Regions from separate parts of the Homo sapiens genome. Here regions 1, 3 and 4 are each reported to be linked to region 2. Evidence: microRNA targets listed by miRTarBase, many of them from high-throughput screens and not tested one by one. Region 2 holds a microRNA gene; each other region holds the end of a gene's coding sequence. Distances are between the middles of the regions.
What was found. The annotated mature microRNA hsa-miR-548aq-5p reads GAAAGUAAUUGCUGUUUUUGCC and lies in region 2 at 2,782-2,803, shown strand. An mRNA with a match to its seed (bases 2 to 7 or 8) in the 3' UTR can be bound and repressed. Matches are read on the target gene's strand: a 7mer-m8 pairs with bases 2 to 8, a 7mer-A1 pairs with bases 2 to 7 and ends in A, and an 8mer does both.

Region 1: miRTarBase lists RDH11 as a target of hsa-miR-548aq-5p. Seed matches in the 3' UTR shown: 7mer-m8 at 1,480-1,486.
Region 3: miRTarBase lists TPRA1 as a target of hsa-miR-548aq-5p. Seed matches in the 3' UTR shown: 7mer-A1 at 2,403-2,409.
Region 4: the mRNA of PTBP2 is a reported target of hsa-miR-548aq-5p. The part of its 3' UTR that is shown has no 7-base or 8-base seed match.

Annotation. Positions count from the first base shown.
Region 1 is chr14:67,673,458-67,679,608 of GRCh38, reverse strand. RDH11 (retinol dehydrogenase 11) reads left to right here. Exons shown (of 7, transcript NM_016026.4): 7 at 1,186-2,809. The coding sequence ends at 1,288. It overlaps VTI1B (vesicle transport through interaction with t-SNAREs 1B), which reads left to right and starts at 4,977. Exons shown (of 6, transcript NM_006370.3): 1 at 4,977-5,234. The coding sequence starts at 5,120. It also overlaps a transcript of GPHN not described here. RefSeq lists silencers at 4,653-5,092, 5,193-5,302.
Region 2 is chr3:185,766,686-185,770,685 of GRCh38, reverse strand. MIR548AQ (microRNA 548aq) reads left to right here and starts at 2,782; the gene lies at 2,782-2,839. All of the region lies in intron 2 of IGF2BP2 (insulin like growth factor 2 mRNA binding protein 2), which reads left to right. RefSeq lists enhancers at 379-879, 880-1,380.
Region 3 is chr3:127,568,353-127,574,458 of GRCh38, reverse strand. TPRA1 (transmembrane protein adipocyte associated 1) reads left to right here. Exons shown (of 11, transcript NM_001136053.4): 11 at 671-3,227. The coding sequence ends at 938. Among named protein-coding and RNA genes, the nearest start is that of MIR6825, 3.9 kb to the left of the region's middle.
Region 4 is chr1:96,813,098-96,819,173 of GRCh38, reverse strand. It overlaps PTBP2 (polypyrimidine tract binding protein 2), which reads right to left. Exons shown (of 14, transcript NM_021190.4): 13 at 6,068-6,076; 14 at 4,125-5,898. The coding sequence ends at 5,769. Among named protein-coding and RNA genes, the nearest start is that of PTBP2, 94 kb to the right of the region's middle.

The DNA.
Region 1 (6,151 bases), not on the chromosome of region 2:
AACATGGCAAAACCCTGTCTCTACTAAAAATACAAAAATTAGCCAGTCATGGTGGCAGGCGCCTATAATCCCAGCTACTCTGGAGGCTGAGGCAGGAGAATTGCTCAAACCTGGGAGGCGGAGGTTGCAGTGAGCTGAGATCGCATCACTGCACTCCAGCCTGGGCGACAGAGTGAGACTCCGCCTCCAAAAAAAAAAAAAAAACTTGGAATTAATTACAGCAATGAAGAGAGGGTATATGAAACACTTTGCTATGATTTGAATGTGTCCCTCAAGGTTCATATGTTGGAAACTTAAGCCTCAATACAACAGTATAGAGAGGCAGGGCCTTTAAGAGGTAAATTAGGTCACAAGGGCAGCCCTCATGAATGGTTTAATGCCATTATCTCTGGAACGGGTTCATTATCTTGGGAGTGGTTCCTTATTAAAGGATGACTTGTGTCCCCTTCCCTCTCTTGCCCATGTCATGCCTTCCATCTTGTTATTACACAGCAAGAAGGCCTTCATCAGATGCCAGCCCCTTGATCTTGGACTTCTCAGCTTCCATAATCATAAGCCAGTTTCTGTATGCTCATTATAGTTACCCAGTTTGTCGTATTCTGTTACAGTACCACAAAATGGACCAAGACACCTCGTACCTTGGTTTTACCATTTCTTTTCTGTGTCGCCTTTTCCTTTTGTTGTTTTCGAAGCTGGCTTTACTTCTCATATGAGTTTACTAACAGTATAACTTCAAGGAGTCCAGAAATAAGCATTTCTTTTTTTTTTTTACTACTCCAGGCATCTCTGACCAATGTGAATAGCAGGATCTCAGCTATATGACATTGTCCAAGGCTCTGTAGAATGGGCCTTATGGACTTACTTGAAGAAGATGGATATACATGGGTGTCAGGCAGGCACTAATATTAAATTATATAAATAGGGGAATATAAAGACCAAATGTATGCATTATATATCAAACAAAGCATTCTGATGAGAGGTGGTCTAGCGAGGAGATCTAAAATGGTAATTACATTTTCTCTGGCTAAGGACTGGAGAATGAAGAGATAAGGACAAACACTGGCCCTGTGAAGTACATGGAGAACATGTGATCCCTAGTTGTTTTTATGTCATATTCCTTATCCCTGGCAGATGGCAGACTTCATTCTTAACACTGTGCTTCATACCTTTCTCTTTACCTTCCAGTGACTGTCATGTGGCATGGGTCTCTGCCCAAGCTCGTAATGAGACTATAGCAAGGCGGCTGTGGGACGTCAGTTGTGACCTGCTGGGCCTCCCAATAGACTAACAGGCAGTGCCAGTTGGACCCAAGAGAAGACTGCAGCAGACTACACAGTACTTCTTGTCAAAATGATTCTCCTTCAAGGTTTTCAAAACCTTTAGCACAAAGAGAGCAAAACCTTCCAGCCTTGCCTGCTTGGTGTCCAGTTAAAACTCAGTGTACTGCCAGATTCGTCTAAATGTCTGTCATGTCCAGATTTACTTTGCTTCTGTTACTGCCAGAGTTACTAGAGATATCATAATAGGATAAGAAGACCCTCATATGACCTGCACAGCTCATTTTCCTTCTGAAAGAAACTACTACCTAGGAGAATCTAAGCTATAGCAGGGATGATTTATGCAAATTTGAACTAGCTTCTTTGTTCACAATTCAGTTCCTCCCAACCAACCAGTCTTCACTTCAAGAGGGCCACACTGCAACCTCAGCTTAACATGAATAACAAAGACTGGCTCAGGAGCAGGGCTTGCCCAGGCATGGTGGATCACCGGAGGTCAGTAGTTCAAGACCAGCCTGGCCAACATGGTGAAACCCCACCTCTACTAAAAATTGTGTATATCTTTGTGTGTCTTCCTGTTTATGTGTGCCAAGGGAGTATTTTCACAAAGTTCAAAACAGCCACAATAATCAGAGATGGAGCAAACCAGTGCCATCCAGTCTTTATGCAAATGAAATGCTGCAAAGGGAAGCAGATTCTGTATATGTTGGTAACTACCCACCAAGAGCACATGGGTAGCAGGGAAGAAGTAAAAAAAGAGAAGGAGAATACTGGAAGATAATGCACAAAATGAAGGGACTAGTTAAGGATTAACTAGCCCTTTAAGGATTAACTAGTTAAGGATTAATAGCAAAAGATATTAAATATGCTAACATAGCTATGGAGGAATTGAGGGCAAGCACCCAGGACTGATGAGGTCTTAACAAAAACCAGTGTGGCAAAAAAAAAAAAAAAAAAAAAAAAAAAAATCCTAAAAACAAACAAACAAAAAAAACAATTCTTCATTCAGAAAAATTATCTTAGGGACTGATATTGGTAATTATGGTCAATTTAATAATATTTTGGGGCATTTCCTTACATTGTCTTGACAAGATTAAAATGTCTGTGCCAAAATTTTGTATTTTATTTGGAGACTTCTTATCAAAAGTAATGCTGCCAAAGGAAGTCTAAGGAATTAGTAGTGTTCCCATCACTTGTTTGGAGTGTGCTATTCTAAAAGATTTTGATTTCCTGGAATGACAATTATATTTTAACTTTGGTGGGGGAAAGAGTTATAGGACCACAGTCTTCACTTCTGATACTTGTAAATTAATCTTTTATTGCACTTGTTTTGACCATTAAGCTATATGTTTAGAAATGGTCATTTTACGGAAAAATTAGAAAAATTCTGATAATAGTGCAGAATAAATGAATTAATGTTTTACTTAATTTATATTGAACTGTCAATGACAAATAAAAATTCTTTTTGATTATTTTTTGTTTTCATTTACCAGAATAAAAACTAAGAATTAAAAGTTTGATTACAGTCAAAAGAAGAAAACACTGTTCATTATTATGGTTGTGCAATGATTTCTCATTCTAAAGAATAATTTGTTCCAGAGTCTAGCTACAGTGTAATCTCAATCCACATGCTATTAATTTAGGTTGTGTGATAATCTAATTGTTCATTCACCATTTCCTACTTAACCTTTTTTGACACTCTTCACAGACACTTTTTCCACATTTCTTGATCATCCCGGGCCATTTTTTTTTCCTTTCTTTTTAATTAGAGACAGCGTCTTGCTTTGTTGCCCAGGCTGGCCTCAAACTCTGGGCTCAAGCGATCCTCCCACCTTGGCCTCCCAAAGTGCTGGGGTACAGGTGTGAGCCGCAGCACCCGGCCCCAGGCTATTGATCCTTTTTTTGCACCTGCCCCTTATTTCTGTACTGTGACAAGTCCCAGCATTGTGCTGTGGGACTTACACAGTATACTGACTATCCTCAGACTTGGTCATGTCTATGCTCAGTGCATATTAAGAGCTTAACCAAAGTGTGTTGAATCAACAGCCAATGAACTTGATCTAATAAAAATGAGGGCCCAGGAGATACAAATTAGCAAAGCATTTTCTCCTGAGCAGTCATACATCTTTTAATATTTGTAGGCAGTTTAAAATTGAACTCCCAAGCAAACATTTGAGAACAGACACCTTGAGCAAACCGTGAAATCGGTGAAAATAATAATTTATTTTAATTTTTTGAGATAGGGTCTTCTCTGTCACCCAGGCTGGAGTGTGGTGGCACGATCTCAGCTCACTGCAACCACTGCCTCCCGGGTTCAGGCGATTCTCCTGCCTCAGCCTCCCGAGTAGCTGGGGTTACAGGCGCCCACCACCACGCTTGGCTAATTTTTGTGTTTTTAGCAGAGACGGGGGTTTCACCATGTTGGCCAGGCTGGTCTTGAACTCTTGACCTGAAGTGATCCGCCCGCCTCGGCCTCCCAAAGTGCTGGGATGACGCGTGAGCCACCATGCCCGACGTGAAGACAGGAATTTATACCCATGGAGTGCAAGAAGGGACCTTGTAATTTTTAACACGTGACACTTAGTGGCAGATGAGACCTAATGAAGCCAGGCCCACCTTCCACACCAGATTATAAATTCCCCTGGAGCAGAGATTAAATGTTTTATTCACCAACATGCCCAGATCCCTCGCAATGCCTACGCTTGACAAACACCTGTTGTCAACAAGTGCACGAGGCAGCCTAGGAGGAGAATTAGTCTCCACGAGGAGAATTACTCGGGCCTAGCAGCTAGAGTATTTCGAGGTCATCCTAACTGGGTTCCACTTTTGAATTTTTGGTTTTTGGGTTTTTTGTTTTTTTGGAGACAAGATCTCGCTCCACTTGGGAGCAAGGTCTCCCAAAGCTGGAGTGCAGTGGTGGGACCTCAGCCTCCGGGGGTAGCTGGGGCCAAAAGTGCGCGCCACCATGCCCGGTTCTTATTTTGGGTTTCTGGTAGAGCTCTCGCTATTGTGCCCAGGCTGGTCTCGAACTACTGGGTTCAAGCAATCCTCCCACCTCGGCCTCCCAAAGTACTGGGATTACAGGCGCGAGCCACTCGCCCGGCCGGGTTCCACTTCTGAAAGCTTGGGGAGCCGCTGGGCCTTCCAAGAAAAGTGCTCCACCTCCCGACGGCAGGCAGAGCCCCTGGCCCGGCTATCTTTCCAGGGCCGAAAGCTAACAGTCAAGACGCGAAACGAGGAATTCGGGTCAGGGTGGCAAAGCAAAGCGCGATGACAGTGAGGACGACGTCTAGACGCAAACATACATCAAATCGGGCCGAAGCCCGCTGTCGCCGCGCGGGCTGAACCTGGCACCCGGAGCAACGCGCGACCCCGGGACGAGACGCTCTCGTCCGAGCCAAACTACATCCCCCGGCGTGCACTGCAGCGCCCGCCCCTCGCCGGCCGGCGGGGCCCGGGAGGAAGGCGGCCGCGCTGCCAGTCCCGCAGGTCCCCTAGGCCCCTTTCGCTGCGGCCTTTCCCCAACCCGGACCCGGCACTTCTCGGGTTCCGCGACTGCCGATCGCCCCGGCGCGGCACCGCTCCCTCAGGAGTCGCCTAGGCCGCGCAGTCTCCCGACTTCTCGTCAGGCTTTCGCGCCGGCGCTCCAGCAATCACTGGCTGGAGAAGGTGGGCGTTCCGGCTCGAGAGGACCCTGCCGCGGCTCCGGAAGAGCCTCGTCCTGGGCGGCGGTGGTGCGGCGGTCGCCGTTATGGCCACTGGGCTGGGCGGCTGACCGCCGGGCTAGGAAAGGGCCCAGGGCCCCGAATCTCGGTGGCCGCTGCTCCAGCGCGGCCTGCGCCATGGCCTCCTCCGCCGCCTCCTCGGAGCATTTCGAGAAGCTGCACGAGATCTTCCGCGGCCTCCATGAAGACCTACAAGGGGTGCCCGAGCGGCTGCTGGGGACGGCGGGGACCGGTGAGGCGGGGGTGGGCCACGCCGTGGGGAGCGCAGCCCTGCGCGCTTTGGAAGGAAGATTCTCCCACCTTCCTCCCAGACCCGGGCCCGCGTCTCCTCCCTCCGCGTCCTCAGACACGCCCCCTAGGGCTGGCTTGTCCCAGCCCCAGGTCTCCCTGCTGCCACTGAGAGTAAATTGGACCTCGGGATTCAGTTCCCTGGGATCCTTCTATGGCCTTCCACATTTTCTCATCTTTTTTCACTGTGGCAAATAGAGCAGAGGGGCTTTTGCATCTGCGGTCCTGTAATGTAGAGTGGGTTTCTTTCATAGCTGTTTTTGTTTGTTTTATGCATTTAAAAGCACTAGTCTCAAGACAGGTCTAGTTTTCACCAGACTGACAGAGGATCCGTAGCACAGAAAAAGGGTTAAAAACCCAAAGGAGTCATAATTTGGGGGTGTTGGTAAATACCAGTTATTGGAGGGTAGAGAGCTGGCCTTTAAAACCTGATTGTGGCATTTAGATGTGGTCTTGTTTTGAACGTTTTTACAGCTGAGACTGTTTACTACCCCTTAATTTCATGATTCAGGTTGCTACAAGTTCTGTCTGGAGGAGCTAGAGTTTTCCGGCCCTAAATCCATAGGAAAAGCTGCTATAGTTCTTGGCCTCCGGATATATAGAATTTGATGGCAAGGACAAAACTTTGTTTTATTGCTTTTATTTAAGAGTCAGAGCTTGGGTGTTTGCTCAACGAATTACTCAAGGTCATAGGAATTGAATGACTGGTGAGAATGAAATTCATGTATTTAATATATATTTATTGTGAGGCTGCTGTGTGCTAGGTGCTGGTGAATTGTGAGGCACCGTTCTAGGTGCTGGTGAATATTGCAAATTACAGTGAAAAAGATACGAACATCCCCATTCTAGTGGGTAGGTGAT
Region 2 (4,000 bases):
AGGGGCTCCTCCTCTCATAATTTGTATGTGCTGGTAATTAAGGCACCTCCACCTTGGGTGTCACAGGTGCTATGGGAAACATAACAGACTCTGGGTGAGTCTTGAGTCTGTTACCAATTTTCCAGATTACACAGGCAAGCCATTTAACTTCTCAGTCTTTTTAAAATCTGGTGCCTTGGAATAAAGGCCTATGGGGTCATAACCAAAGGAGCAAATAAGATGCTTGTGAAAATACTTTCCAATGTATAAAATCCTTTTTAAATATAACCCACTACTCTTTCTCACTCTGACATGGTGAATCTCTGTTCGTTGGTTTTGCTTTTCCTATCACATCCCATTTTCCTTGAGAGAACTGGAGTTTCCCGTAAATCACCAGATATGCTCCCTCGGGTTGGCCGGTCCTGCTCGACCAGTCCTGAGTCCTAACTATGTGGTGTGCTATGACAGAGCAAGGGTAGAGACTTCATTTTTCTGATGTAAATTACACGCCCGCCACCACATCCCTTCTTATGAGACGTAGATTCTGTTGACATAGGAGCCTAAGAGAGAGACCATCCCCCAGTTCTGCTTCCTTGAGGACATAGAGAGAAGGCTCAGGATTCGTTTCCCTTCCAGGGGTTCCCAGATCTTATTGGGTTTGTGTGGGCCTCTGGTCCCCAGGGGCCGAACTTTGGGAAGAGGGATACAGTGGCTGCTGCTATAGGCAGTTGGCACTTCTTTAGAGATAAAATGTGAAAAGATGGTTTGTGGATTTTGCCTAATAGATAGTAAGCATGACAGAAACACAGACCTCTTGGTTCATGTGGTTTTGTGACTGAGATGAAATTGTTTCTTTTTTTTTTTTTTTTTTTTTTTGGAGACAGGGTCTCATTCTATCATCCAGGCGGGAGTGCAGTGGCAGTGACCACAGTTCACTGCAGCATTGACCTCCTGGGCTCAATCGATCCTTCCACCTCAGCCTCCTGAGTAGCTGGGACCACAGGTGTGCATCACCATTAATTAAAATTTTTTGTAGAAATAGGATCTTGGTATGTTGCCCAGGATGGTCTTGAACTCCTGGGCTCAAGCTATCCTTCTGCCTCAAACCTCCAAAAGTGTTGGGATTACAAGCGTGAGCCACCGTGCCAGGCCATTTCTAATCTTTGGAGACCATGATTTCTCTGTCTGTAAAATGCACTTGAGAGCAAATTGAAGAGTGGCCTTTGAGCTGAATACCTTTACTTGGTTATGGCATTCACTATTTAAGAGTTACAGGTTCTTCTGAGTGTTTGCTGTCTCTTTATAACTTCCGTTTTAAACAATAGATTCACCTTTTTTTTAAAAAAAATTTGGAGACAGGGTGTCATTCTGTCTCTTAGGCTGGAGTGCAGTGGCATGATCATGGATGTCTCATTGCAACCTCAAACTCGAGGGGCCAAGTCCTCCTTCCACCTCAACTCCTTGGCCTAATCCATCCTCCCATCCTCCTCAGCCTCCCCATGCTCAGCTAATTTTTAAAAATTTTTATAGAGGTGGGGGTTTTGCTGTGTTGCCCAGGCTGATCTCAAATGCCTGGCCTCAAGTGATTCTCCCACCTTGGTCTCTCAAAATGTTGGGATTACAGGCGTGGACCACCGCGCCCCGCCCAGGTTCAACCTTTTTTTTGTTTTGATTTGTTTTGAGACGGAGTCTCACTCTGTCGCCCAGGCTGGAGTGCAGTGGCGTAATCTCAGCTCACTGCAATCTCCACCTCCCAGGTTCAAGCAATTCTCCTGTCTCAGCCTCCTGAGTAGCTGGGACTACAGGCGCATGCCACCACATCTGGCTAATTTCTGTATTTTTAGAAGAGATGGAGTTTCACCATATTGGTCAGGCTAGTCTCCCTGACCTCAGGTGATCCACCCGCCTCAGCCTCCCAAAGTGCTGGGATGACAGGCGTAAAAGCCACCACGCCTGGCTTAGATTCAACCTTTTAAAGGTGCTTATTGATCTATCAGAAGCTTCAAAGTGAAAGCATGATACTCCACCACTAGAGGGCAGTGCTGTCCTAGTCACATGATCTGAATCTACAAATTGCTGAATTTGAAGCTTCCTTCAGTCCTCCACAGAATTAGACAGAAAATTTATATCATTTTTATATGTATTAAGTATATACATATTCAAAATATAATTTAAATATTTAAGTAGTATTAAAGGACCTTTTAAAAATACTTAGATTGACTTAAAAGGGTTAACATGCAGTTCTTTATCATTATCATATTCTTTACCAAGTTAAACTGAATCCCACAGAAAAAAATCTATCCTGAAGGTTTGTAGTTCATCATCAGCCCTCGGGTTAGCTCAGCATCGTGACACCTCTAACTACATACTCATGTCGCCCAGGTTCTTCACTGTTTCACTTACAGGGATGCCATGCATCTGGCTGAGGATGTTTTAATTAACAATAGAGATACTCTTGGGAAAGTTCTCAACTTTCCTTTTTCCTTTTTCTGTAGGAGGTAAAGAGCTAAATAAATGTTTATATAGTGTCATGATGCCACTAAGAAAATAACAGCCCCTTTGTCTCTTTTCCCTCAATCATAAGGAAGTTATGACCTGAATAGAAAGACAAAGCAGTACCCTTCTGTGTTTTTCTCAAGTGAGAACATTTTTTTCTTTTGCATAAAGTCACAAAAGTGTATATAAGGGCTGAGGATCTGGTAATTGTCCACATTTCAGATTTTTTTAAGGAAATATTCCTAGAAGTATAATTGGATTAAAGAGTAATATAAGGATTAAGACACTTGCTATTTAGGTTGGTGTGAAAGTAATTGCTGTTTTTGCCATTACTTTCAGTGGCAAAAACTGCAATTACTTTTGCATTAACCTAAAATAATCATTGCCAATGCTTTCCAAAATGGCTGCACTAAAATATATCCCCTGAACAGTACATGAAATCATTTTCAACCCTAATACATTCCATAATTTCACCCAACATATTCCAGAATTGTATTCCTCATTTCAGCAGCCTTATTTTAAAATATTTTATAATTATAAACTTTTTTTTCCAAGTAGAAGGTATGTTGATCAATATTTCCCCAAATATATTACTGTACTGGTAAGACATATTAAAAAATGGTTCAGTGGTCAAATACATTTTTCAAATGTTGTATACTTGTCCCTTTCTTGGAGATTTGTGAAGCACACATGCATTTTAAGGCTCTGAGAAGTCCTGTAGTAAAGAAATCTGTTTAACTTGATGTTTTATAATTTATTTACATAACTACAGAATCCTTTAACATCTTATGGAAATGGGATTGGATTTTAGAAGATAGTAATGATGGTGGGAAGTTGTTCTGGAAGGTTTTAGGAAACACTGTAGTATTATAAGGATTTCTTCTGAACTTGTGTTGGTCTCTGGTCATCGTTGTGGAGAACAGAATCCACAGAGTAGCTAGATTAAGCACAAAAGAATGCATTGAGGTATATAGATAGATCACAGAATTGTCGGACAGGCTGAAGAAACAGGCTGCAGGTGGAGCTTCTTGATAGTCTGCAGAACTGGTCTGCCAAGAGAGCTGTTGCCTATGCCACCATCGAGAAGCTTCTCCCACAACTGCCTCTGCCAGATTGGGAAGCCACTGGGTCCACAGTTGTGTGTCTCTATCCTAGCAGGAAGTGGGGCTGGGCAGTTTGTTTTCAGTCCTATTTTAGGAAGGAGGGACTTTACACTAAGGTGAACTATCAAATGTGGAGAGAATGTCTAAAAGACGGCAGCTACAATTAGCAGGCATCCAAGAAGACAGCTGTGTGTTGTGAACACCTTGGGATATAGGTCAGAAAACTGGGGTGTAGCCCTGGCCTTGCCTCTTAACTGCTGCATGACCTTGGGCAAGTCCACTTTCAAACTTGCGATCTCATCTCTAAACAGGATATAACTCACTGACTTGGAGTGAAGATAAAATGAAAGTAATAGGTGTGAATATACCAGGGAAAACTATAAAGTATTAAATGAAATCAGTAAAAAGTATTTTTCACAACC
Region 3 (6,106 bases), 58 Mb from region 2:
TGTGAGATGGGATGCTGAAGACATGGGATTGGGGGTCCCACTCCAGACCTTAATGTGGTCGGAATGTGGGTGTTTTGTCCCCCCTTTCTCACCTGCCAGGTCTTGTGGGGAGGGGATCAGCCTCCCACCTGGGTGAAGCTGGGAGAGGGCCAGACTGGTCCATGGCCCCAGCTTGGATCTTTGCACACAATTTCTCCCCTGAGCCTCAGGCTCCTTTTTGTAAATTGGGTGTAGTGTGTCCCCCTTGGAGAGTTGCCCTGAGGGCCGAGGGACGAGGTCAGAGTGGAGTGGGTGGTAACATGAGCAGCAGGGGTCACAGGAGTGGGGGCGGAGGCCACAGCCAATGTCTCCTGAGTGCTTGGGCAGGCACTGTTGAAGCCTCATGATTTATGTCCATTCTTCCTCCACACGGTGTCCACACACCCATTTCACCATGAGGAAGCAGGCACAGATGCCCCCCGCCTGAGCTCACACAGCCAGGGGGAGGAGGGCTGGGTTCCAAAACAAGTCTAGATGGGCTCTGGGGTCCAGCTCACAGGCCCACTCAGAGTGGGTGTCAGGCGACTGTTGGTCAATTCCTTCCTTATCTGGTGGCCCCATCAGCCTGGAGAGGAAGGCTCTTCCTGAATCACTCAGTGAGGCTTCCATGCCCCTCTTTTCCTTTTATCAGCTCGGAGCCCAAGATCCTCTTCTCCTACAAATGCCAAGTGGACGAGACAGAGGAGCCAGATGTACACCTACCCCAGCCCTACGCTGTGGCCCGGCGGGAGGGCCTGGAGGCTGCAGGGGCTGCTGGGGCCTCAGCTGCCAGCTACTCGAGCACGCAGTTCGACTCTGCCGGCGGGGTGGCCTACCTGGATGACATCGCTTCCATGCCCTGCCACACTGGCAGCATCAACAGCACAGACAGCGAGCGCTGGAAGGCCATCAATGCCTGAGGGCAGCTGCCAGGGCCTGTGGAGGACAGGCCAGAGAGGAGGCCAGCAGGCCCAGAGTCCCCAGGGGAGGAGGACCAGGTCAAGGGACGTTCTGTGGGCAGTAGCCCTGTGTGGCCCTGTTCCCACCATGAGTCTGGAGGCCCCACCTCCCTGGGGCTCCCAATCCCCTTTGCCATCTCTGCTCTCACTGGGGACCCTCCTCCCCTTCCCACCTGCTCTCATACTGCTCAGTGACATGGCCCAGGCTTTCCTTCCAGGGCCATGCTTGGCAAGGTTGGCTGAGGGCACCCTCCTTCTCTGCACCCTTGGCACGAGGGCAGGGCTGGCTCTCCCAATGCCTCCATCCCATCCCCATGGTGCTTTGGCCTCCTCAAAGCATCCACCATGGTGGATGGACTGAAGTGTGTATATTTTCTTGATCTATTTTTTAATAAAAAGGAAAAGGAGCAGAAGGTGCTAATGTGGAGGTTTTGCAGGAATACTGGGGCTGGTTCCTTTCAGGAGCCTGAGGGCTGGGTGAGGGGCTGGGAGGCTCAGGGGGCCTCTGCTCAACCAAGGAGCAGTCCCCAGTGCCCAAGCCCTGGGCTGGCTGCTGGGGAGGTGAAGAGAAACAGGATCCCAGCTGCCGCTGCCCCTGCCCCTGGGCCCATCTGAGTAGGGGGGACAGACATGGAGAGAGAGGAGAACTATGTTTTGTGAGCCAGCCCCTCTCCCTTTGTCAGACACACACTGTTGTCTTGGGCAGCCGGTTCTCTCTGCTCAGCTCCATTAAAACGCAGAATGGACTTACTATTGCCATCTGTAAAATGCGGAGAAGACCCATCCTGCAGGGCCTTTTGTAAGGATTGGAAAACACTAAGCACGAGTGGCTGGCGTACAGTAATGAACGATAAGGATAGCTCTTATTTTTAGCCTCAAGAATAGTGCTTGGCACATAGTAGGCCCCCAGCAGACAGGACTCGGGGACTGATGTTTGTCATAAGGATGGGTGTGGTTGGCTGAAAATGGGAGTAAATCAGAGCAAAGCACTGGGATCATAAGGCATGAGTAGGGGAGAGGGGCCCACTTGTCCCTGCCACTGCCCTTGTACCTGAGTTCGGCTTTGAGCTTTTTGGCAGCCAGAGTGAAAGGGAGTTGCTGCCAGTTATGTAATCCCCAGAGTTGGAGAGGAGGAGCCCATCCAGGACACAGCCAACTGCATGCTTCAGAGCCTGGGGAGGTCTCAGCCCTGGCTGTGGGGACCCTGAGGATCAGGCTGTTGCCCGCCTCCGCGATCAGCCTTTTTTTTTTAGGGGGGAATGGGGTGCCGAGGGCACAAGCTCCAACACAGCTCATGTCTGTGGGGCCAATGTGTCAGGCTCCCTGGGAGGGCCTGGAGGGTTGATAGCGGACAGGGCCAACAGTACGGCCAGTGAGCTGGACTCCTGGGCTGCAGGGGGTACTGCAGGGTGCCCCTGAATGGCATACTTTATCGGGGCCTCTCAGCTCATGTAAAAGCCTGGTAATCAGGGAAGGCAAGCTCACGGCATTCTGAGTGAGCGGGGTAAGGGTTGGGGCCAGCAGGGATTTGACCATCAGATCCACATGCAGTCCAAGATGGCACAGTGTCAGCCGAAGTTTGCTGGCTGCAGTGAATGAGCAGAGAGGCATCAACAGAAGAAAAGAGACCATTTTTATAATTTTTAAGTTTGTTTTTTAAAAATAGGTCATATATGTACATGGCAAGAAAAAAAAAGGTTCATGCAGTACAGGAGGGTATTTGGTGAACGATAAATCTCCCTGTGTGGCACTGAATTCCTCTGTCCCCCTCCTGAAGCACCCAGGGTCTCCATAACCTTCCAGAGCCATCCTGTGTTCACACCAACGGATGTGTATATCATCCCTCTTTCTGTAATGCTAATGTCCTGTAGCTCACTCCAATGGATCTTGGAGATCATTCCATGTCAAGTGGAGGACTGCTTCACCCCTGCAGCTACATATATATGGATATATGGCAATTTATAAACCACTTCCCTTTTGTTTCTGAAAAATTTTGCAACAACAAACAAGGCAACATCAACAATCCTTATAAATTTGCTTTTGGTAACTCATGCAAGTAGAATTGCTGGAGCACACAGTCTTAATTAGTTTTAATTACTCTTATTAGTCTTCTGCAGAGATCAATAGTTGTCCTCCAATATATGTTGTTTTTCTCCATTGGAAGAGAATCCCTGATTTTTCGCTAGATACACAGCTGTCTAGAATAAAGACTGCATTTTCTAGCCTTCCTTGCAGGTGGGTTCTGGCCAATGGATGTAAGTATGCATGCAACTTCCTTAGAGATAAGAGGTGGCCCTTCTTTCCTGCTGACTGGAATGTGCTTATAATGGCTGGAGTGATAGCAGCCATCTTGAACCATAGGGTAATCTGGGGAATGGAAGTTTCTCATTGCAGTGCGACAGGATAGAGAGAGCCGGTGTCATGGACACTGTAGTGCATCTGTAACGACCTCGGACGTCCTACCTTCAGATGACTTTTGGAACGTATGAGAGAAATGAGTGGCTATCTTGTTCAAACCACTTTTGATGTTTCTCTTACAGTTGAACCTAATCTGAACCAAAACACCCATTCCAAGAGGCTATGCCAGCTTTCATTCCCACCGGCACATCCTCACTGACGTGGTATGCCAGTCACATTTTCAGTCTTTCTGAAGAGCCCTGCTCAGACCACGTCTGTGTGGTGTCTGGGTGCGAACAGGCATTAGGCAGAGGAGCGGCTGGATGCGAGGTTTCTGGAGTCTTAACGTGGTGACAGAGTTCACTGTATGTGGCCAAAGTCTAATCTCACCTTCCCACTGCTGCTGCACATGGACTGTGGACCTTGGGCAGGTCACAGCTTCTCCTTGATCCTCAGTTTCTTCACTAGTGGTACAGGGTAGCAGGTGACTGGTTGCCACTGGTATCCATTTTTCCTCCCTCAGTAACTGCACCCTCATGTTTGTGGGTCAGTGAAGCACCCACCTTAGAGGTGTCACCATTGAGAATTTAGGGAAGAAGACCTTGGACACAGGGTCCTCAGTTGCTGCCAAGCTCAGTGCCAGCCACATGGCCCTGAAGCAGCAGAGCTCTGAGACCTGCAGGTCCACCCACCCAGAGCACTGGAGCATGGTGATATAACGGGTGAACGCATGGCCAGTGATGTATGGGTTTGCCAGGGCTGCCATAACAAAGTACTATAGATGGGGGCCTTCAACAACAGGGGTTTATTTTCTTACAGTTCTGGAGGCTGGAATTCCAAGATCAAGGTGTCCACTGTTGGTTTCCTCTGAGGCCCCTCTCCTGGGTTTGCAGTCAGCCGTCCCCTTTCTGCCTTCTTGAGTGGTCTTCCTTCTGTGTGTGGGGTCCCTGCTGTCTCTCTGGGTCCGAATTTCCTCTCTTTATATGGACACCAGTCAGATTAGATTAGGACTCCCAATGAATGGCCTCTTTTCACCTTAGTCACCTCTGTAAAGGCCAAATCTCCAAATGCAGTCCCCTGCAGAGGTGCCTGGGGCTGGGGCTTCAGTGCATGAGTGTTGGGGGACTGACTTCAGCCATAACAAATGGCATTAGAGCCTCTCTCCCTCTGACCTCCTGACACTGTGCAAGAGCCTGAGACCTTACCAGATCCACGGAATAGGCAGAAAAGCCCTAAGCATAACTGAGGTTAAGTCTTCCTCCTGCTCAGCAGAATGGGGCCATGGTGGAAACTCAGCAACATTCTAGAAAATTCCTGGTGTGCTGTGGTGGGATTCCCCCCGCTATGTGGGACTGGGTCTTCTCCAGGACAGCCCCAGGTTCTGCCGTTTCCCTCGGGACAGCTGGAGGGGCATCGCCCTGCCCTGCCCCATTAGAGGAGGGATGAGGCCGTGTGACTAACGCTGGCTACTGAGATGTGAGTAGAGGTGGCATGCATCAGTCACTTCCAGGTGGGAGAATTTAATGGCCAGTACATTGCTCCAGCCAGCCACGGTGATGGCAGAAGCATGTGGTAAAGATAGAGCCTCTGCCAGCCTGGGTCCCTGAGGGGGCTCAGTGGGAAGAATCCCCCTGCTGAGCATGCACTGAACATGTGACCAGAAAAAGAAGTGAACCCTACCCTTTAAGCCTCCAAGACTGGAGGCTGTTTGTTACTGCAGCACATCCTGGCATGTCTCAACCTCTCCAAGGGTTAGCTGAGGTGGACACCTGCTACAGTAGCTGTGATTAATTTGATTTCCAAGTAGAGAGAGCAAGGCCTGGGCTAGGGACAAGTAACAGCTCCTGGGCTCAAAGGGTCACCCCCTCAGCCCCTGTGTCACATGGGCTCATTTTCAGACTCCATGGATCATTCTGTTAGTTTCTCCTCCCCTTCATAGCTTCCTTAGGGATGCCTGTGCCAGGGTCATAACCTGAATGCCCTAGTCTTTCCACCTCCCTTCAGCTTCCAGTGGCCTCATCTCTGTGCTTTCGGGTGACTGTGGAGGGGTGAAGGCATCTGGGGAGGAGCTAGTGTGCTGTGATGGCACAGGCCATGTACTAAGTGTGTGCTGGGCACCCAGCGCCGAGCTGCCTTCTGGAGTGCCAGCCTAGGAAGCACTGTCCCCTTCCCTGACCAACTGTTCCTGCTGTGCCACTTGCAGATCAAGGGGCCGGGCCTGGGAGAGAGGGCTGTGCCCGAGCCCAGGAGGAGTGAGCCTGCTCCTCTCCCAGTGACGATGGGGTAGGTACCTCTTGGAGCAGCTGGTCGGCCTCATGGGCTGTCCCAGAGATGCTCAGGTGGCCTGCACCTGGTGCCTGGATGTCAGACACCATGGCACCGAACCCGTTGGCAGATGGGCTCCCTGGAGGCCTGAGCCCACCCTCTGCCCCAGGCAGGTGATCAAGATGCGGCAAAGCCAGCCTGGAGAAGCAGTTGCTAAGCCATGAGTATGCCTCTCCTCGATCTCAGAAATGCCTTTTGAGAGCTGCAAGGGGTTAGAGGCACCTGCTCAGCACTGAGCCTGGTGAATAGACCTAGTGTGAGTGGCCTAGAGTGAGTGGCCACTTGCTTCTCCCCATGGCTTTGTAGCAGAGCTGGGCTGGAGACTGGACCCACACTCCCCAGGGCTGCAACAACTGAGTGAGGCCAAAAGGATATTGGTCCCAAGCTTCCCGTGTCCCTGGGGATGC
Region 4 (6,076 bases), not on the chromosome of region 2:
TATGAAAATGACCTGAGTATCATTTCATTAAACCACAAAATGTAATAAACAAATCAGGAATTGAGTATTAATTTGCATTCTATTAAAAAAAATCAGTTCACATGGACATTCCTTCCCTGTCAGACTAAATTTGACTTTTAACACTAATCATACTGATTTCTATTATAAGCTATCAACTTGTACATAATAGTTTAAATTTATGAATAATAGCAGGCCTGTATTTCTTTTGATCAGTATTATACATTGAAGACTGGATTGGAAAGCCAGGGACTTGGATTCTAACTACAGGTAAGTTACAATAAATATGTTGCTAAACTATTCATTTGATCTCTAGAACTGTTTATCTTTAAAACAGCTGGTTAAAACTAGATATCCGGGTTCCTTTTCAGTTCAATTATTTCTTGGTATTAACTATATCTGCATAACTTAAAATTACTAATGAAATAATTTCCACACTCAGGAAAAAACTTTGAAGCTGATTTTTATAGAACTGAAAAAATGCATTGAGTGCTTCTCCAACTTATGTCCAAATGCATCACCTGCCAATCTTGTCAAAATGTAGATTCAGTAGGCTCATAGACTGAGTTTCTAATAAACTCCTAGGTGATACTAATTTGCCACTGGTCTGGTGACTATATTTTTAATAGGGAGGTTCTAGGATTTGAAGAAAAGTAGTATTGACCAGCTAGGCTAGTCTAGATATTAGAGAAAGCAACTATGACCACGAATAAAACAACACAAATATATGCTACAAAATTTCTTGATAAAATATATCTGGGATCTGCATTAATAAAGGAGATGAGAATTGGGTGGAGGAAACGAGGAAGATCTAAGTTGCTAACTGAAGCTGACAAGGGTTTGTTAAATATTCTTCTATTTTTTGTATGTTTGAAATATCTAAAAATGTTAAAATTTTCTGATTCAAAAACCTATACAACATACCAAGACAATAAACCAAGTGAATGAAAATAGAGATGCCACATAGTCTTTCTGTCCATTGAAATGGGAGCCAAAGAGGGAGGAAGAAAAGCGAGAGAAGTGCAAAACGGGTGGCTCTGTGAAGCTACAAAGGGTATGTTTGTATTTAAGGACCTTACACATAATTCAGCGTCTAAAATACCAATGATATAGCTCCTTGTTTACATCCTTAAGAGAAACCTGAGGCCCAAATGACTTATTTCTTAAACACAATTTAAAATCCTTGTTAAAAATTGGTTAAATGTCATGAGATTTGATAGGGGAATTATCAATGTCCAAACAGTCTGTTAAAAATTATAAAGTGTGTTTTGAACAATATTGTACTATTTAAACACCCAATATCATATTATTTGCCATTTTTATAACTAGGCAAAACAAGAAATTTAGCCTACAGAATATAGGACAAATTCCTCTTGAAAAGCAACCACTGAATAATAAAATACTAAACTGAAGGTAACAATTACCTCTTGGGAAAGAATAAGGTTTGAACTAAGATCAGAAAGAGGTTCATATGGGATTTCAGTTCATTCTGTAACGTTTTCTTTCAACTAATATATAATTACGTTTAAAATATGGAATATGTTAGGTAGTGATATAGTTGAGTGAAGTGCATAGGTGTTCATTACGGTTTTATTTTTCCGCGTATTTGAACAGTTCTTAATGTGAATAATCTAATACTCTATAACTTTAACATGTACACTTTTATTTGCAAAATCTGAAACTAGAAAATTTAAAGGGAAGCTATTCAAAATAACAAAGAATAACTATAAAACTAAGGTTTTGCATAATCAATGAATATTACGGTTTAAAATTAAGACTTTCTGCTGAATTCTTGCCATCAGATTTCCTAGTATACTCAATTTCACTGAATTCTGTACTTTCTTCTGAATGAAAAAAACGTTTTCAGATTTAGGCTCCATTTTAATATATTAAGGCAGCCAGAAAATCCTGTTTGAAGTTCAGAGCTGCTCATGAGAGTATGTCTTTCTTCCTTAGCCTTGAAATTCCTGAGTGTTAAAATTACCTGTTTCACAGCAACTTTTTTATACATATGAAATCTTAAGTGCAGTCTATAATTAAATATGTGCATTTTATGATTGGGCTATCAAGTTCAAACAGAAAATATAAAGCTAAATCCATGGTTTCTTTTCATCTGGCTTGGGATGCTCTCTATAACTGCATTTTACATCTTTCTGCTTTATGAAACTAGTAAATAATTTTAAAACATTAGTATTTCTTTGTAGCAAAAAGACATATTAGGATAACATGTATTGTGGATAATGAAGTTTACTGTGGGCAAATCTGGCAGTCTGGGAACTGGCATTAGTTAACTAATTGCATAGCATTCCTTCACTTATCCTATTTGAGCCTCTGTAATAATCCTGTGAGGGGAGCAGAGCAGAACTTATTGCCTCCATTTTACAAATAACATTGAGGCTTTGAAAAGTGATTTGTCCTTTCCCTAGTAATTATATGGTGATACAAATAGATGTACATGAATGAATTAAGCTAATCACCATAATTTCACTATACTAACCTTAACTCTAGGAGCTAAAATGCTTCCAAAGTGTTAATTTAATCTCTAATATAATGATTCATTACACTTCCTGGTTAAGGAAAAATTTTCTTCATTGCTTTCAAATGCTAACGTTAAATATAAACTGTAGATATCTCTTCCTTAAGTAGGTACTTTAAAACCCATTTCCAAAATACATCTTCAATACCAAAAAATAATTTTTCTGATTATTTCTAAATATTCAAGTTAAGACCTCTATTAACAAAGCAGCTAAGTCCTAAGAATACTTGTTAGCTTGTTCACTCTAAGAGTCATAGAGTACTAATATACGACAAAGCTGTTTTTATTTTTACCTAACTTTTAATAAGCAATTCACTATATGCCAAGGCCTGGGTTAATTTGATGTACTGAATTAAAAATATTCTAGAATGTCAAAATCCCCCTTTAGTGACTTGGTGCTTTGGAAGGAAGGCCGTATTAGGGCATACTGTAAGACAGTATAGAATCTGCTGTAGTCCTTAGGCAGGAAGAGCTGGTTTCTGGTTATCTCCCACTAGGGAGACTGGGAACTCCCACCAGCTTAGCAACTGGCACAAACTAAGTCCACACACACAGCTCAGGACTTAGTTTCTCCTTCCCAAGGCAATCCCACCCACAATGAGCACCTGAAAAGGTGACAGAACCTACTTTCAAATATTATAGCCACCACTAATTACTGAGAAAAACTTCACCTTGAGAAGCTTTGTTCAATTACTATTCACTAACCCTGGTATTGGTTTTTTAGACTTTAGACTTATCTGATGCTGGTAGAGTTCCTCTGTGCTACGATGTTATTTTAAGAAAAAAACACAGATCACCTAGCTTCCAAATCATCCCAGACTGTTGACTCTAATGGTTCTTCTTCAGATGACAACAGTGACACTAGTGTAAACAAAATTATTTTACTTATTATATTCTTCTTTCTTGGAGGTAACTGAATTACTACATTAAGTATAGTAAAACATATTTTATGTTCCTTCATTTACTTTTTATTATCCTATGTGTAAGTTTTGCATAAGTGTGGGATATTTTATAACAGAACAAACCTAAGAAACATGTGTAACTCCAAAGTTATTTGATACCAATATATCTGTTTAGAAAAACTGACCGAAATATTTTGAATATAAATAGCACCCTAATTGTAACTGCTTAACAAGTTACAGTAGTAACATCCTCAGTTGTTAAATGCAAATTACTCTAAGTTTTTAAATACTTGAATGTATATCATTCTTCCCACCCAAGGCAAAAGCAGATATGCTGATATGCAGATATGCTGCTCTTTCTTCCCAGTAATATCAAGTTCTTTTTGTTAACTCACAAGGTAGTCTAAGATTAGTAAGAAATCTTTAGCAGACACAAAAGATGAAAGATGAAACTGCAGCAAGAGAGCATGGCAAATCCAAAAGATCTATTAGTGCATAAATCTACTGGAAAAAAAAAAAAAACAACAAGAACAAAAGAGATAGAATTAACAAGCTACAATAAAAGTTATGTCTTTAAAGCAGTAGATTATAACAGGGTGGGAAATGTTTAATATGTGTCCTCCTGAAAAGCAGTTACCATCTTTTAAATTAAAAAAAACCAGCTGGTATATTTTCACAGCATCTAGATTTATTTATGGTATAAAGCCATAGAATTGTAATATTATTACTCCTTTCCCACCCTGGCAGAGAATAAACATGAATTCAGAAGCACAGTGGAGTGAAAACAAAGAAGAGGAGAGAGAAAAGGCAGCAGAGAAAGACAGAAAAGGTGAATATAGAGCTACAGAAGTGTTTATTGAGCATGCTACAGGGGTAAGCAGAGTACACACAAAATGAAATTAAACAACCATCAAACCTCCCAACTTTGTTAGAAAATTAATTTTTAATTGTGCCGCTTTCAAACTATACTGAATTTTACATTTCTAAAGATGTAAAAACTCAACTAATAGAAAATATACATGACCATTCTGTCTACATAGATAACAGAATCTATGAATCTTGAAACTAAGTACATCAATTTCAAAAAGTATTGGTCATTTAAACAGAATCAACAATTCGGATTGACAAGAACTGTTCAAATTAATTTGACCTGTAGATTCTGAGCCATGTTTTTATTAAAGTCAGATCTATTCCTAAATACAAAATATTTTGAAGATTTATTAAAACTGAATATTACAATGCAAGGTAAATTAAGACTAAAGGCACATAAACTTTGGTCCCACCTGGTTGTCAGTTTTAGAAAACTGCCACAAAATTAATCTTCCTGCATATTTTCGCAGTACACTTTCTTTATCTTTGAAAAATACATGCACCAGTTCCTGAACTAGCTAGACCAGTCTGCACATGCTCAGAAATCCACAACCATATTCCAAATCTTAATTACAAACTAAGGATGGCAATATATATTTAAATGCACGTAAGTCATGTCAACTTCAAAAACATCTACGAAAAATATTCAGCCACAAACAAGACATTACTTAGTGCTGACATTTATATGATACGTCCCACAAGAGTGTGTACGAAAAGGTTAAGATTCCACAATGCTTTCCACATAGGGCTCAAACTTACAGAAATCACTTTGTTGTCTTAAGAAATTAATACTCTGCATCTTGTTAATTTTAACTAATGCCTACATTCATAACTGAATCTAGACCAGAATTGTGAGATACAAAAGGCCAATGTTGTTTTCAAAGCAATAAAGCCTAAGGTAGTAAAAACTAAAAATGCTGCTTTATTCTTTCAATATCATGTATCTTATTTGATTAAATAGAAAAAAAGGTGACAAGCCAGTAATTCAAAATAAGTTCCAAGCAGGAGAAACAAAAACTTAACCTTTTTACACACCCCTGCCTAAACATATTTTAATTCCCATATAACAGTGTGCCCTAAACAACCAATTCCTTTTTTCTAGTAAATGCACAATAGCAACACTAGTTTTCCTTTTTAAGGCACGTATGTCAACTAAGTTGAAAGGAAAAAAAAAAAAAAAAAAAAAGCAAAATTAAACTGAAATTTTAAACAGACAAAATGGCTTCCCTATAGAACAGATGAAATATAGCAGTTAACAACTCTGCCTTTACATATGCCATTTCATTTTATAACCAAGGAATGATAACAGCATGGAAAAAAAAAAGAAACCCCAAAAAAACAAAAACAAAAAAAATCAAACTCTGGTCCCCACTTTTCTGAACAGTCAAATAGGTGATGACATTGAACAATGTGATTCACCCCCAATCTTCATCTTCCCATTTTTAAATTGTTGACTTGGAGAAAGACACTCTCAGATGATGGTTTTCTCCAAGGTTATAATTATGAAGATCAATCAAGGCCTGAATAGCTTCTTCCACTGTTGCCATCTGAAGAAGAGCCATTTTGTGATCTCTTCTGAAACAAAATTATAAAATTAGACACTTCATACAAATTAGAAAGGGCTTATTAAATACTTGAATTTTGGCCATTCCGGAATCAAAAATTTCTATAAACGAAAAGAACAAAAACTACTTAAAAATTTTATCAGGTCACTAATTTAAAGATAAGGAAGCTTGCTTACTGAAAAAAC